4 linked regions of the Homo sapiens genome follow. The protein of the gene in region 1 interacts with the protein of each later gene in a pairwise test. Each region holds a gene or a part of one and is shown on either strand. Other genes may lie near its edges.

The links. Proteins that work in one complex are often made in the same cells at the same time.
Region 2: the proteins of YAF2 (region 1) and XAGE1B interact in binary tests that used the Homo sapiens proteins (3 or more experiments, as listed by UniProt).
Region 3: the proteins of YAF2 (region 1) and CD300LF interact in binary tests that used the Homo sapiens proteins (3 or more experiments, as listed by UniProt).
Region 4: the proteins of YAF2 (region 1) and PCDH17 interact in binary tests that used the Homo sapiens proteins (3 or more experiments, as listed by UniProt).

What each region holds. Positions count from the first base shown.
Region 1 is NC_000012.12:42,228,249-42,231,748, reverse strand, and holds part of YAF2 (YY1-associated factor 2), read left to right. Parts: exon of another isoform or gene 1-527; intron 528-3,500. UniProt on the Homo sapiens protein: Binds to MYC and inhibits MYC-mediated transactivation. Also binds to MYCN and enhances MYCN-dependent transcriptional activation. Increases calpain 2-mediated proteolysis of YY1 in vitro.
Region 2 is NC_000023.11:52,514,264-52,518,459, forward strand, and holds the start of XAGE1B (X antigen family member 1), read right to left. Parts: upstream 2,801-4,196; 5' UTR 2,717-2,800; exon of another isoform or gene 2,588-2,716; coding exon of another isoform or gene 2,397-2,587; intron 1,311-2,396; coding exon of another isoform or gene 1,265-1,310; coding exon 1,169-1,264; coding exon of another isoform or gene 1,153-1,168; intron 642-1,152; coding exon 515-641; intron 1-514.
Region 3 is NC_000017.11:74,706,424-74,709,923, forward strand, and holds part of CD300LF (CMRF35-like molecule 1 isoform 1 precursor), read right to left. Parts: intron 1-3,500. UniProt on the Homo sapiens protein: Acts as an inhibitory receptor for myeloid cells and mast cells.
Region 4 is NC_000013.11:57,722,244-57,725,743, reverse strand, and holds part of PCDH17 (protocadherin-17 precursor), read right to left. Parts: intron 1,133-3,500; coding exon 450-1,132; 3' UTR 1-449. UniProt on the Homo sapiens protein: Potential calcium-dependent cell-adhesion protein.

The DNA.
Region 1 (3,500 bases):
GAAGATTAGTGGTGGTATCAATGAATATAATTTCTGATATTTCACCATGAAATGTGTCAGCATTTGGAAGCTACGCATAACTCAGCAAACAAATGGTTCCTAGTTACCGATGTATGATTTTACAAAACTGTAATGGGTAATCCATCAAAGTACAAAATACCAACAGATTTTAAGGGAACACTGAAAACTTCATTGATGTGGTTTCAGATTTCATATTGCAACTAACCTTTGAGAAACAACTGTGTTTTTATGTAGTATCAAAGAATAACACCTATAGTTATCTGAAAATGCTATTCAACTACTTACCTCTTTTCAACTGTATATCTGTGAGAGTCCAGATTTTCTTAATATTTTTGGACCAAAACAACATATTGCAACAAATTGAATGCTGAGATAGATGTGACAATCCAGGTGTCTTCTACTAACCAGATGTTAGAGGTTTGCAAAAATATACGATGCCACTCTTCATACAAAATATCTTTGTTTTGGAAAATAATAAGTTTTTAAAATAAAAATATGTCATTTAATATGTGATGTATTTATTTTTTAAATGAACTAATATATTTAGATTTTTATCAGTTTTTATTTCTAATATAGTAAACATTGATAGATGACCCACATTAAGAAAAACAAAAAACAAAAACTCTTAAATTTTAAGAGTGTAAATGATCCTAAGACCAAAAAGTTTGTGAACTGCTGGTCTAGAGTTTATTGGCTTGGGTTTCTACATGCAATGGCTTTACTTCAGCAGGTATTCTTTTTATTTCCTTTATAGTGTGAGGCCTGATAACTAATATCCTAGTTGTTTAACTCAGTGGCCCAATCTCACTCATCTGTTGATGTCGCCTCCAAAGTATTTGATGTTCTTGGCCCTTTTTAAATTGAAACTCTACTTCCTTCATGTCTCTAAGACTCCTTTTTCATAGATTTCTGTGTATATCTCTGAAACCCATTTCTGCCTCCCCAAACTTGGCATCTGTATATTCTTTACTTTGTATGTGGCATAAACTCCTTTCTGGAACCTCAGCTAGAAACTGTCATTGTCTCAGCTTTGATTCTAATTTGTAGTCCTCCTTCATGTCCTTTCTCTGGATTGTCTCTTAAATCTATCCTTTTTCCTTTTATGTAGTTACAGTTCAGAAGCCCATATCACTTCTGTCATGAACTATTGGACAAATTGGTCTCTCCTTTGGAATGCTACTAACATGATCTTCATTATCTTTTTTGAAACCTATGTGATTATGTTGGTCCCTGTATATTTAAAAAAAAAATTGAGTCCTATTAGTGGCTGCTGAATAAAGGCTGAGATCCTTAGGATAGTGTTCAAGGCCATAATAATAATCTATCCCTAAACTACCTTCCTAGCTTCATTTCCTGCTGCTTATCCCAATCCTGTGCTGTGTCAGCACTGAATTATTTTTATCATATGGTACTTTTTCTTTCTCTTTCTTTCTTTCTTCTCTTTCTTCTCTTTCTTCTCTTTCTTTTCTTTCTTGAAGGAGTCTTGCTCTGTCGCCAGGCTGGAGTGCAGTAGCGCGATCTTGGCTCACTGCAATCTCCGCCTCCCAGATTTGAGCGATTCTCCTGCCTCAGCCTCCTGAGTAGCTGGGATTACAGACGTGTGCCACCATACCTAGCTAATTTTTTTATTTTTAGTAGAGACAGGGTTTCACCATGTTGGCCAGGATGGTCTCCATCTCCTGACCTCGTGATCCGCCTGCCTCAGCCTCCCAAAATGCTGTGATTGCAGGCGTAAGCCACCATATGGTACTTTTCAAAGAAGCCCTCTAGGATTACCATCCCTCCACCCCTTGGTATCATATTGATTCTATGTATGTAGAGTCAGTCATGCACTCCATAATGACATTTTTGGTGAGTGGGGGACCACATATACAGTCCCATAAAATGATACTATATTTTTACTCTACTTTTTCTATGTTTAGATACAAATACTTACCATGGTGTTACAATTACCTGCAACATTCAGTATAGTAACATCCTGTACACCTGTAGCTTCAGAGCAATAGGCTCTACCATATAGCCTAGGTATGTAGTAGGCTGTACCATCTAGGTTTGTATAAATACATTCTATGATGTTCTGACAATGAAATCACCTAACGATGCATTTTTCAGAACATATCCGTCATTAAATGATGCATGGCTGTATGTATATGTAATTATTCCTGGAGAATAAATATATTGTAGTATAATTGTCTAGACACTTATCTGCCCTACAGGGCAGAGACCGTCTTATTCACTTTGGTATTCCCAGAAGCTAATAAAATACCTGAAGTATTGTAGATATTTAAATGTTTTTTTTTTTTTTTAATTTATTTTTTTATTGATAATTCTTGGGTGTTTCTCACAGAGGGGGATTTGGCAGGGTCATGGGACAATAGTGGAGGGAAGGTCAGCAGATAAACAAGTGAACAAAGGTCTCTGGTTTTCCTAGGCAGAGGACCCTGCGGCCTTCCGCAGTGTTTGTGTCCCTGATTACTTGAGATTAGGGATTGGTGATGACTCTTAACGAGCATGCTGCCTTCAAGCATCTGTTTAACAAAGCACATCTTGCACCGCCCTTAATCCATTTAACCCTGAGTGGACACAGCACATGTTTCAGAGAGCACAGGGTTGGGGGTAAGGTCACAGATCAACAGGATCCCAAGGCAGAGGAATTTTTCTTAGTGCAGAACAAAATGAAAAGTCTCCCATGTCTACTTCTTTCTACACAGACACGGCAACCATCCGATTTCTCAATCTTTTCCCCACCTTTCCCGCCTTTCTATTCCACAAAGCCGCCATTGTCATCATGGCCCGTTCTCAATGAGCTGTTGGGCACACCTCCCAGACGGGGTGGTGGCCGGGCAGAGGGGCTCCTCACTTCCCAGTAGGGGTGGCCGGGCAGAGGCGCCCCTCACCTCCCGGACGGGGCGGCTGGCCGGGCGGGGGGCTGACCCCCCAACCTCCCTCCCGGACGGGGCGGCTGGCCGGGCAGAGGGGCTCCTCACTTCCCAGTAGGGGCGGCCGGGCAGAGGCGCCCCTCACCTCCCGGACGGGGCGGCTGGCCGGGCAGGGGGGCTGACCCCCCCCCCACCTCCCTCCCGGACGGGGCGGCTGGCCGGGCGGGGGGCTGACACCCCCACCTCCCTCCCTGACGGGGCGGCTGGCCGGGCAGAGGGGCTCCTCACTTCCCAGTAGGGGCGGCCGGGCAGAGGCACCCCTCACCTCCCGGACGGGGCGGCTGGCCAGGCGGGGGGGCTGACCCCCCCCCCCCACCTCCCTCCCGGACGGGGCGGCTGGCCAGGCGGGGGGCTGACCCCCCCACCTCCCTCCCGGACGGGGCGGCTGGCCGGGCAGAGAGGCTCCTCACTTCCCAGTAGGGGCGGCCGGGCAGAGGCGCCCCTCACCTCCCGGATGGGGTGGCTGGCCGGGCAGGGGGGCTGACCCCCCCCCACCTCCCTCCCGGACGGGGCGGCTGGCGCGGGCGGGGGGCCGACACC
Region 2 (4,196 bases), on another chromosome or scaffold:
TGGTCTTCTATCCAACAGAACCAGAGCATGTGGAAATTAGCAACGAAATGGATTTTAATCTATCTGATGTGCATCCACTCTTTTCACTAAGAGCAAGGATGCCTGTGGAATTTATACGATTCATCCAGACTCTCACAAATTATGGTAGAGCTGGTACTAGAATCTGCTTCAGGGCTCAGCATACTTCACACAAACTGGTATTACAAATGCATTATGTGTTTGTTAAAAGCAGAAATTAGAAAAGAATCTGAAAATTGTTAGCTGTTGGTTATACACCAAACTAAGAAAATGCTGTCACGTTTGATGATTCAATATGGCTTTGACCCAATTTGTTTCTGTATCTGATAGTGTTTAAGTCTTGCAATCTGGCATTTGGGTCTGAACGACGTTTCAAAGAACATTTGCATTTGCACTGTGTTTTTAAAGTAGCACTAATGTTATCCCTCTATTATCAAAAGTATAATACTGTGTAAATGAGAAAGCACATAACTTTGCATCTTGCTGGATAACATACCTGCTTCTGGCATTTTACAGTGTTCCTCTTTAGGTATTATCTTCACCTTGACGCCGGAACCCAAATCCAGATTTATCCCCGGTGTTTGACTGATGCAGCTCTTGCAGATCACCTTCCATGTCGCGCACTTCAAAATACAAAGGTTATCGATTTAAGCATTCCAACATGAAATATAAATAAGGAAATGATAATATTCTCTTCCTTCGCGTTACGAAATAAAGCCTGAGCCAGGCGTAGTGGTTCATGCCTGTAATCTCAGCACTTTGGGAGGCCGAGGTCGCTTGAACCCAAGAGCTGGAGGTGGCAGTGAGCCAAGATCATGCCACAACAATCCACACTGCGTGACAGATGAGCCTCTGCCACATAATAAAAAAATGTACATTTCTATACACCAAATTAAATGGTTTCAAGTGATTTAGTAAGGACTGTATTTTCAAGCATACAAAATCCATCTCGAAGAACAAGAGAAGATTCATTATATCCAGGGACAGCATGAAGCTGCAAACTATACTCTCCCTTTTCCAGCCAACTTTGAGCAAATGTTTGGTATCTTTTCCTAATGTTCTCTTTGCTCCTGTTACTGCTCATGGCATAGGCCACAATGCACACATAGACCTTCTCCCGCCCCATAGACATACTTTCCCTTCCCAGCACCTGGGATCTCAGCTGTATCCTGATCTTCTTCTGTCTGCTGCCCAGGTGTAGGATCCCGACTTTCAGCTGCTGGTTCTTCTTTTTGGGGCTCTCCATTACTGGGCTCCTGGGACTGGCTGTGTGGTTCTGTGTTTGTGTGTGTCTAGATAAAAAGTTTTGTTATTAATACATGTCAATAATATAAATATACAGAATACACAGGTATGTCTTATTATAAGTATGTCTAGAGACATTTCTCCAACACTACCCCGTATACCTAATCTTCATAACACTATTCTTCCCTCAGAGAGGTTACTCAAAGACAGATATCCTCAGGGACTTTGGAAGCCGTTTTAATCAATGTTGGGATGAATGTGTGTAATCTGTTCTGAATAAGCATGAGGAGGAAGTTATGGACAAAATCTGGGCACACACGATCATCCACCCACACAAAACCCAAATATAACCCTCTGGACTAATCTTTCCTTCATGGGATGCCATGATCATTTTTTATCAGCATGGGAGACCATTATCAGTGTATCCATACTAGTCCATCAACACTATCAGAAAAATAACTTTCTGCTAAGAGAAAACATCGAATGTTAAGACATTCACAAGCAGAGGCACAATGAGCTCAGGAGGTTGTGAACTTCTTGGCATAGGCCTATATGTTGATCGTCCTCATCAACACATACTTCACTCTGCAAGCAGAATACTGCGATTGGGAAAATGCACTTGACAGGACAACTAGATTTGACCGCTTTCATGGTCAAATGTTAACTTGGACATTTTTTTTTTTTTTAATTTAGAAATACTCTGAAAGTCCCCGGGCAAGTATAAGTGTATGCACCTTTTGAATCGAATGCTTGCAAAGCCACTTAAGTAGGTCTAGCTAGCTGAGCGATGTCTTAAGGCTCCTGGCAAAAAACACAGGGCATTTCCCATGAGGTTGGTTTCACAACTGGACACTCCATCAGGGAGACAAGTAGGAAATTACAGCTACAGAACTGAAACTGCAGTGACCACCAATTTTGTCACATAATGATTTGCTAGGCCCACTTCCCCCCCACCCCAAAGTCACATTTTTAGGAACTCAGGGCCCCGCCCATTGGAATCTCCACAGTGGAGTTGAGAATTTGCTACACAGCAGTGGGCACTCCTCACAGGACCCCTATGCCAGGCACTCTACAGACCTCGGGGCTGCGGTCACTAGCCCGCAGCATGCCCCGTCTCCAGGACCCTTCCATACCGCTCATGCCGTCCCTCTCCTGGTCCCGTCTGGGGAGTCCAGAATCTTCTGTCGGGGTTCCAGGTGCTTCTGGGACTCGGATACCCCCAACAGCACCCCAGCTTCGCCTGAGCCCCTCCACTCCTCGGCCCTCCTTCCTCCCTAGTTATGGCCGTGACGAGACAAGAAGGTCCATGGGCGTGGCACCGCATGAGAGGGACGACGACTTCGAGGGCCTTCTCACTCTGAGTCACTGACCACACAACCCTCCGGAAGCCTGCTGGTTCCTCTTCACTCTCACTCACACTTCAACTCCCAGTTGGATCTGCCTGTGGACCTACCCGCCGTGTCTCAGTAGCGGAGAAAGAATCCAGACCTCAGGGACCCGAGTCGCCGGCTCACAGCTCCGCCGCGTTCCCCACACTGGCGAAGGGGCCGATGGGAAGACGCCCAGTGAACATGCGCACTGAGGTGGGCACCAAAGGAGCATGCGCAGTGAGGTTCCCTCGTGCCTTAAGGGCTGTGGTGCCCCTCCTTATCCCGCCTTGCCCTGTCCTATGCTCCTTCCCAGGTCCCCATTAACGACTTTGGAATCCCTCCTCTCTGTGTGTGGGTTCCCCCCCACCAGGACTCAAATACCTCAAATAAAGTCAGCCTTCAAAACTCACTCCATGACCGGGCGCGGTGGCTCACGCCTGTAATCCCAGCACTTTGGGGGGCGGAGGCGGGTGGATCATGTGGCCAAGAGATCGAGACCATCCTCGCCAACATGGTTAAAACCCGTCTCTACTGAAAAATACAAAAATTAGCTGGGTGTGGTTGTGCGCGCCTGTACTCCCAGCTACTCGGGAGGCTGAGGCAGGAGAATCACTTGAACCCGGGAGGCGGAGGTTACAGTGAGCCGAGATTGCGCCACTGCACTCCAGCCTGGTGACAGAGCAAGACTCCGTGAAAAAAAAAAAAAAACTCACTCCATGCTCACCTGACCCTCCTCCCCGCTATGGCCCTCCTTCGTCCCATGCCCGGGACCCCACAACAGCAAGGCCATGGCAGTATCGCTGAGTTTTAGTAGAAAGATGACGACCTCAGAGGCCATGGACCAAGTGGCACAACCCACAGGAAGCCCCCCACGCTCCCCCTCACACTCACTCACACTTCACTTTCTGGGAGGACTGATCTGCAGACCTACTGGCTAAGTCATAGTCAGCACGAAAGAAGGAAGTCACGACGTCTCCTTTCACAGTTGTGGAGGGACAGAAGTTAGAGAGCAAGGCGCATAGGCAGCAAGGAACTTTCATAGAAAGGGACATGCACATTGAGCCAGGGACTTTTCAGGGCAGGGTAGGGTTTTCCGCTGTTCCCAGACCCGCATCCCCATGGCGTTTGTAGTAGAAAAAGGGACTTGAGAGCTTTCGTCTCTCTTTGTCCAATCTCATGCATTCAGAAACGTTGGGAACAGACAGTCCCTTACTGGAGGATGTGTCTCAGGAAGACCTTTTGTGGAAGAAATAAATTATTTTCATATCTTTATTTATAAAGCCGTTTTTATTTATTTTTTTTTCCAGACAGAGTGTCACTCTGTTGCTCAGGCTGGAGGGCAGTGGCATGACCATACCTCACTGAAGCCTCCATCTCCTGGGCTCAAACAATCCTCCCGATGTAGCCTCCCCAGTCCCTGCTACTACAGGTGCAGACACCACACCTGGGTAATTGGTTTATTTATTATTTATTTATTTTTTAGATAGTGGTCTCACTGTGTTGCCCATGCTGGTCTCAATTTCCTGGGCTCAAGTGATCCTCCCACCTTGGCCAGTTTTATAA
Region 3 (3,500 bases), on another chromosome or scaffold:
AGAACATATATATATAAATTCCCAACATGAGGTTGGGAGTTCGAGATCAGCCTGACCAACATGGAGAAACGCCATCTCTACTAAACATAGAAAAATTAGCCTGGCATGATGGCACATGCCTGTAATCCCAGCTACTCGGGAGGCTGAGGCAAGAGAATCGCTTGAACCCGGGAGGCAGAGGTTGCAATGAGCCAAGATGGCGCCATAGCACTCCAGCCTGGGCAACAAGAGCAAAACTCCATCTCAAAAACAAAACAAAACAAAACAAAAACCAGCAGTTCAAGCACAACAACCAACGGCGCGGACAGAGGGCCTCAGTGTCAGAGAGACCCTGGGAAGGGGTGAGGACCACGGCAGCCTGGATTGGAGAGCAGGGTATCCATGCGAAGGCACAGCCCTCCTTCCACTCCAGCCCGGGTCCTGGGGAAAGAAGCGGGCCCTGTGACAAGAACACACAATGGGGAAAGGACAGTCTCTTCAATAAACAGTGCTGGGAAAACTCGACATCCACGTCCAGAAGAATGAAGCCGGACCTTTATCTCACAACATATACAAAAATCAACTCACAATAGAGAAGATGTAAATGTAAGACCTGAAACTTAAATCTCTCAGAAGAAAACCTAATGGAAAAGCTCCACAACATTGGTCTTGGCGATGATGTCTTGGAGAGGACGCCAAAAGCACAGGCAACAAAAGCAAAACTAGACAAATGGGACTCACAAAACCAAAGAGCTTCTGCACAGCAAAGGAAACAACCAAGAGAATGAAGCGACAACCTACAGAGTGAGAGAAAATATTTGCAAACCATAAATCTGACAAAGAGCTGATATCCAAAATACATAAGGAACTCAAACAAATCAGTAACAAGAAAACAAATAATCTAATTAAAAACTGGGCAAGGAATCTGACCAGATATTTCTCAAAAGAGGAGCTATAAATGGGCAACAGATCTATTTTTAAATGCTCAACATCTCTGATCACCAGAAAAATGCAAATTAAAACCAAAAGAGGGTCAGGCACAGTATTCACACTTGTAATTCCAGCACTTTGGGAGGCCACATTGGGTGGATCATCTGAAGTCAGGAGTTTGAGACCAGCCTAGGCAACATGGTGAAATCTTGTCTCTACTAAAAATACAAAAATTAACCAGGTGTGGTGGAGTGCACCTGTAATCCCAGCTACTTGGGAGGCTGAGGTGGGAGAATCGTCTGAACCTGGGAGGCGGAGGTTGCAGTGAGCCAAGATCGTGCCACTGCATTCCAGCCCGAGCAACAGAGTGAGACTCCATCTCAGAAAAAAAAAAAAAAATTAAAAGTGGTATATGACTGTATATCCTGCACATATTAAAAAGTTAATAAACCATGAATAAGATAAAAGGATATAATAATAAAAGGATATTTAAACAATGTTATGCCAATGAATTTACAATTTGAGATGGAATAAACAAATTCCTAGAAAAAAATTATACAGGCCAGGCACTGTGAGAGGCCGAGGCAGGTGGATCACCTGAAGTCAGGAGTTCAAGACCAGCCTGGCCAACATGGTGAAACCCCATCTCTACTAAAAATACAAAAATTAGCCTGGCGTGGTGGCACACACCTGTAGCCCCAGCCACTTGGGAGACTGAGACAGGAGAATCGCTTGAACCCAGGAGGTGGAAGTTTCAGTGAGCCGAGATCACATCACTGCACTCCAGGCTGAACAACAGAACAAGACTCCATCTCAAAAAAAAAAAAAAGAAAAAAGAAAAAGAAAGAAAAGAAAAAAAATACAATATGCTAAAATCAGCACAAAATAAATAGAAAACCTGAATCATTCCACAGCTATTATATTTAAATAAATCAAATCCCTTGTTTAAAACTTCCGCCAGAATAAAACTCCAGACCCATACAGCTTCAATGGAAATATTTACCAAACACGTAAAGAAGAAATAATGTCTATTTTATAGATAATTTTCCAGAGCATAGAAAAAGAAGATGAAATCCCAAATCCATTTCACGAGATTAACATAATCTTGATGCCAAAACCTGACAAGGGCAAAGCAAGAAAGTATTGTAGGCAAATATCACTCATTAACATAAATGCAAAAACCTGAAACAAAAGATCAGCATACGGAATCTGGTGATACATAAACAGGATAAAACATTATCACCAAGTTGGGTTTATGCCAAACACCCAAAATGGTTTTTAACATTAAAAAATCAATAAGGAGGCTGGACGCGGTGGCTTACACCGGTAATCCCAGCATTTTGGGAGGCCAAGGCGGGCGGATCAGGAGGTGAGGAGATCGAGACCATCCTGGCTAACACGGTGAAACCCTGTCTCTACTAAAAATACAAAAAATTAGCCAGGCGTGGTGGCGGGCGCCTGTAGTCCCAGCTACTCGGAGGCTGAGGCAGGAGAATGACGTGAACCCGGGGGGGCGGAGCTTGCAGTGAGCCGAGATCGCGCCACTGCACTCCAGCCTGGGCGACAGAGCAAGACTCCGTCTCAAAAAAAAAAAGGAAAATCAATAAGGAGGCCAGGCACGGTGGTTTACACCTGCAATCCCAGCACTTTGGGAGTCCGAGTCAGGCAGATCACGAGGCCAAGAGATCGAGACAATCCTGGCCAACATGGTGAAACCCCGTCTCTACTAAAAATTCAAAAAATTAGCTGGGCGTGGTGGCGGGCGCCTGTAGTCCCAGCTGCTCGGGAGGCTGAGGCAGGAGAATCGCTTAAACCCAGGAGGCGGAGGTTGCAGTGAGCCAAGATCACACCACTGCACTCCAGCCTGGAGACAGAGCAAGACTGACTCAAAAAAAAAAAGGAAAAAAGAAAATCAATAAGGGTAATATGCCATATTAACAGAGTCAAGGAGAAAAATCTTGTGATCATCTTAGGTGCAGAGAGAAGTAGTGATAGGAATCAACGCTCATTCATGATTTTTTAAAAACTCTTAGCAAACTAAGAGAACTGCCTTTATCTGATAAAGATTGTCTATCAAAAACCTCAGCAAGCACCACACTTAGTGCGAGACATTCATATGTACTTTATAATAATTTGTTAACATGGATGTTGAAGTTTTATGCACTTTTTTGTACATTTTATTTTCCACAATTAAAAAGACTTTTAGGACACCATAAACCAAGAGCCAAATTATTCTTTTTTTTTTGAGATGGAGTCTTGCTTGGTCGCCTGTCACCCAGGCCGGAGTGCACTGGTACGAACATGGGTCACTGCAGCCTCAAGTCCTGGGCTCAAGTGATCCTTTTGCTGTAACCTCTTATGTAGCTGGGACGACAGGACCACAGGCATGCACCACCATACCAGGCTAGTATTTTTTTTTTTGGAGAGACAAGGTCTCACTTTGTTGCCCAAGCTGGTCTCAAACTCCTGGACTCAACCGATCTGCCTGCCTTAGCCTCACAAAGTGCTGGGATTACAGGCTTGAGCCATCATGCATCACCAGCCAAATTATTCTTAACAGTGAAATACTATAGGCATTCCTATTGACATCA
Region 4 (3,500 bases), on another chromosome or scaffold:
CACCACAGATCACAAATTATGACCCTGCTTTGTATGGGGTTTATAGGTAAACAGTTAAGTCAGCATAAATCACGGAGGACAGTCTGAGAGTGATCAGAAATACTTCAGTTCTCACACTGCATACCTTCCTAACAGATTGTCAAAAGGTAATTCTTCTCCTCATCCTCCTTTTTCATCTCTCCTTTTTCTTCTCTCTTTTTTTCTTTTCTCTTTAAGCATCATTAATTCTGTCCTAATACAAGTTTGGTCAAAACGAAACCATTGTTATCTCTGAAAAAGAAATCAGCAGTGGAAAGAACATACTTGTGGGCACTTCAGATGTTCACTAAAAGCCTTAAAGCAGCATTGGTCTTTCTTCATCCCTGTAAAATGGGTTATCACCAGGAGGGATCATTTTTAAATCAACAGAAGAGACAAGAAAATGCCAATGCCTTTTTTTTTTTCTTTTTTCACTTTCTCACAGCCACAGGGTCGTTTCCCCGGCAGTCTTGCAAAAGCTTATCAATTTCTCTCACAACTTCCTCTGCATCCACAGACTCTCTGCCCAGATCCCTGTTGGGGTGGTCAAGCTGCTCAAGAACAGCACCCATCTCACTGGAATCCCGGCTGGCTCTGGAATGCACATCTGCAAAGACCCTTGCCATCTGATCGGAAGCCATGAAGGGAGGGTCTCTTGGTTGCTTACTAGGTGACAGATATTGACTGTCAGTGGGCAAGTACTGACTGCTTGCTTCAGCCAGGGCTCCTGGTTTTGCTTCACAGCCATCCAGGGAGCCTTTTGTTGAGGTGCAAGGCTCGATGCACGCCTTGGTTGGGCTGCTTGATGCTGAGGGGACCTCTTGGAGGAGAGGGCTCAGGGCACGTTTGGCTTTTAAATAAGGTTTAACGTTGGCAATGAGAATAGTGTGCTCTCGCTTGTCTTTTCCAAATGTACAAAAAGTCTTTTTCCCAGTGGGATTCACAGTTTCGTAAGTCTCAGTCTCAACATTAGCTTCAACTGTAGGTACAAAGAGATTTGTGCGGTAATCTGCATTTTCAGCCTGATTGGCTGCAGGGAACTGTGGCATCCAGCACCTGTCAGAATGACCAAGCACTCGGCATTCATCTGTGCAATTAACACACTCTTCTGGTTCTGCAAAACAAAAGAGAAAACAGCAAATCCAATCATTAGAGTTTTCTTTAAATTTCTACAGAGGCTGTGATCAGCTCTCAATGGGCTTGCTTGACCTCTGGTCTCTTAATTAAAAAGGAAAAGAAAACAATAATTAAAACATTTCAGGATGGTTGCATAAACCTGCTGGTTGAGACAATGGTTTAATTTAAGTCTATTCTCTAGAGATTAATGAATTCCCACAGCCTGGGAAGAAGTAAGATGTGGCCATTGGAGAATCATTCTCAGTAGAATAGAGCATCACCATAAACTAAACTCCTGGGAATATCAGTTAGTCTTTGTTCTGTATAACTCATCCTAGAAACAGTGAACTTCAAAAAAGATTATCAGGATTATTTTTTTCAAATCAAATAACAAGGCAAAAACTGGATTGCAAACTTCCATAACAAGTTCTAAGCTGCTCTTTAAAAAACGTTTTATCACTATTTTGCTTGTAATTGTTATTTGGATGACAGTCATGAAATAAAAGGTTTCCTTTAAATGCTTACTTTTCCTACTGAGAGTGGCAAATGGAATTTTTTATCAGGACGTATTATGAATAAGCTTGTCAAAAAGTGCACATCTCTATTTTATTAGATAGGCGTATGGATCATGTAATCAGTTTTCTGTTCAGCTTTTTGTTTTGGGTGTAAGTAGGTGAAAATGCATTTACTCAACAGATACAGGTCAGAATGAATGACAAATCATGATTTCCCATTTTAAATAATAATGCTTTCTGTGGGAATTTTTACTTTTTTCCTTTGCCAATAGAGACTCTAAATAAAGCATTCTTTTAATGATCTCTATTTCACAGATGCTGAATGTGGAATATGAAAAAAAATCCTTAATTATAGAAGAGCTGCATACTTCCATTGACCCCAATATTTTAAACCATAACTTTGAGCTACATCGTCCCAGTTGTCCCTTTCTTATATAAATGATTGTGCCCATTGTGGTTAATGACTGTTTCTAAATCAGAGACTTTTACTTTTAGGAGAGGATATTTACAATTTACCTTTATGTAATGGGAATAGAAGTCCCTACACTTTTAGGCGCCCTTGGGATTTGCCATTTAATTGGTGCTAGATGATCTCTACACATTTAGAGTGTCCTGTGCAAGAAAAGGATGTCCACATGAAACATATATTTAAAATAGCAGCAAATGTAATAGCATTGATAAATTTGTATATCACTTCTCAAAGTTATATATGAAACCTAAATTTATACTTAAAGCATGTAAATAATTATTTACATTAAAAAGCCCACAATCTGTTTTATCTCAAAAGGTTTTAAGATAAAACAATTTCTTAAGAGGCTGAAATTTTTAGGAAGAAATCAAAATGGTGTCTTGAGAAAACAAAGATACTATGTTATTTATTCACACCTGTGAAACCTCAAAAAAAATTAGGTATCTTTCTTCTATTTTAATTTTGTCATTTTTTAAAAGAAATGTTTTCTTATGAGTAAATTAAATATTCACTGTTAAATTTATTATGCAGGAAAGAATGCTGAAAAGCAGTCACACAGTGCATCCACAGACGCAAATACTATCTACAAATCGAAAGACTGTTAGACAGACATGAAGAACAGCAGAAACTAGGCATTATTTTTTTTCAGAAGCCTCTATTTATGTATTTAAATTAGAACTGAAATTTTTTAAAAGGGGGTATCAGAAGTTCAATATTGGCCAGGTATAGTGGCTTATGCCTATAATCCCAGCACTTTGGGAGTCTGAGGCAGGAGGATTGCTTGAGCCCAGGAGTTTGAGACTAGCCTGGGCAACATAGCAAGACACCCCTCTACAAAAATAAAAAATTTAAATTAGCCAGGTGAGGTGGTGCATGCAGCTACGCGGCAGGCTGAGGAAGGAAGATGGCTTGAGCCCAGGAGTTCAAGGCTGCAGTAAGCTGTAATCATGCCATTTCACTGCAGCCTGAGTGACAGAGTTAAACCCTGTCTCAAAATAAATAAGTAAATAAATACATAGAAAAGCAAAAAGAAAGGTTCAATATCAGGTATCAGTCATTTGTTTCCTTTACCTACTCTAAATGGGAATCATAAATATTACCTTTATTTATATCTGTCAGTAAATGTTAAAAAAATCATTTCAACAAATAGATAACTTTCAACAAATTTTATCTTTCAGAAAGAAGGAAAAGTAGAAAACTTTACAATCTATTTCACTCAGTAATACTTTTGTATCTTCTAGCATCATGAAATTTTTTAAAAAATTCATTTATAACTCATACACTGTCTTTGAAATATGCTAATGTAGTTTCATGTTTCATATTGACTGGCCTTTCATTGCAGCTATTTGGATAGCTAACACTGAATGAATTCAGTATGAATT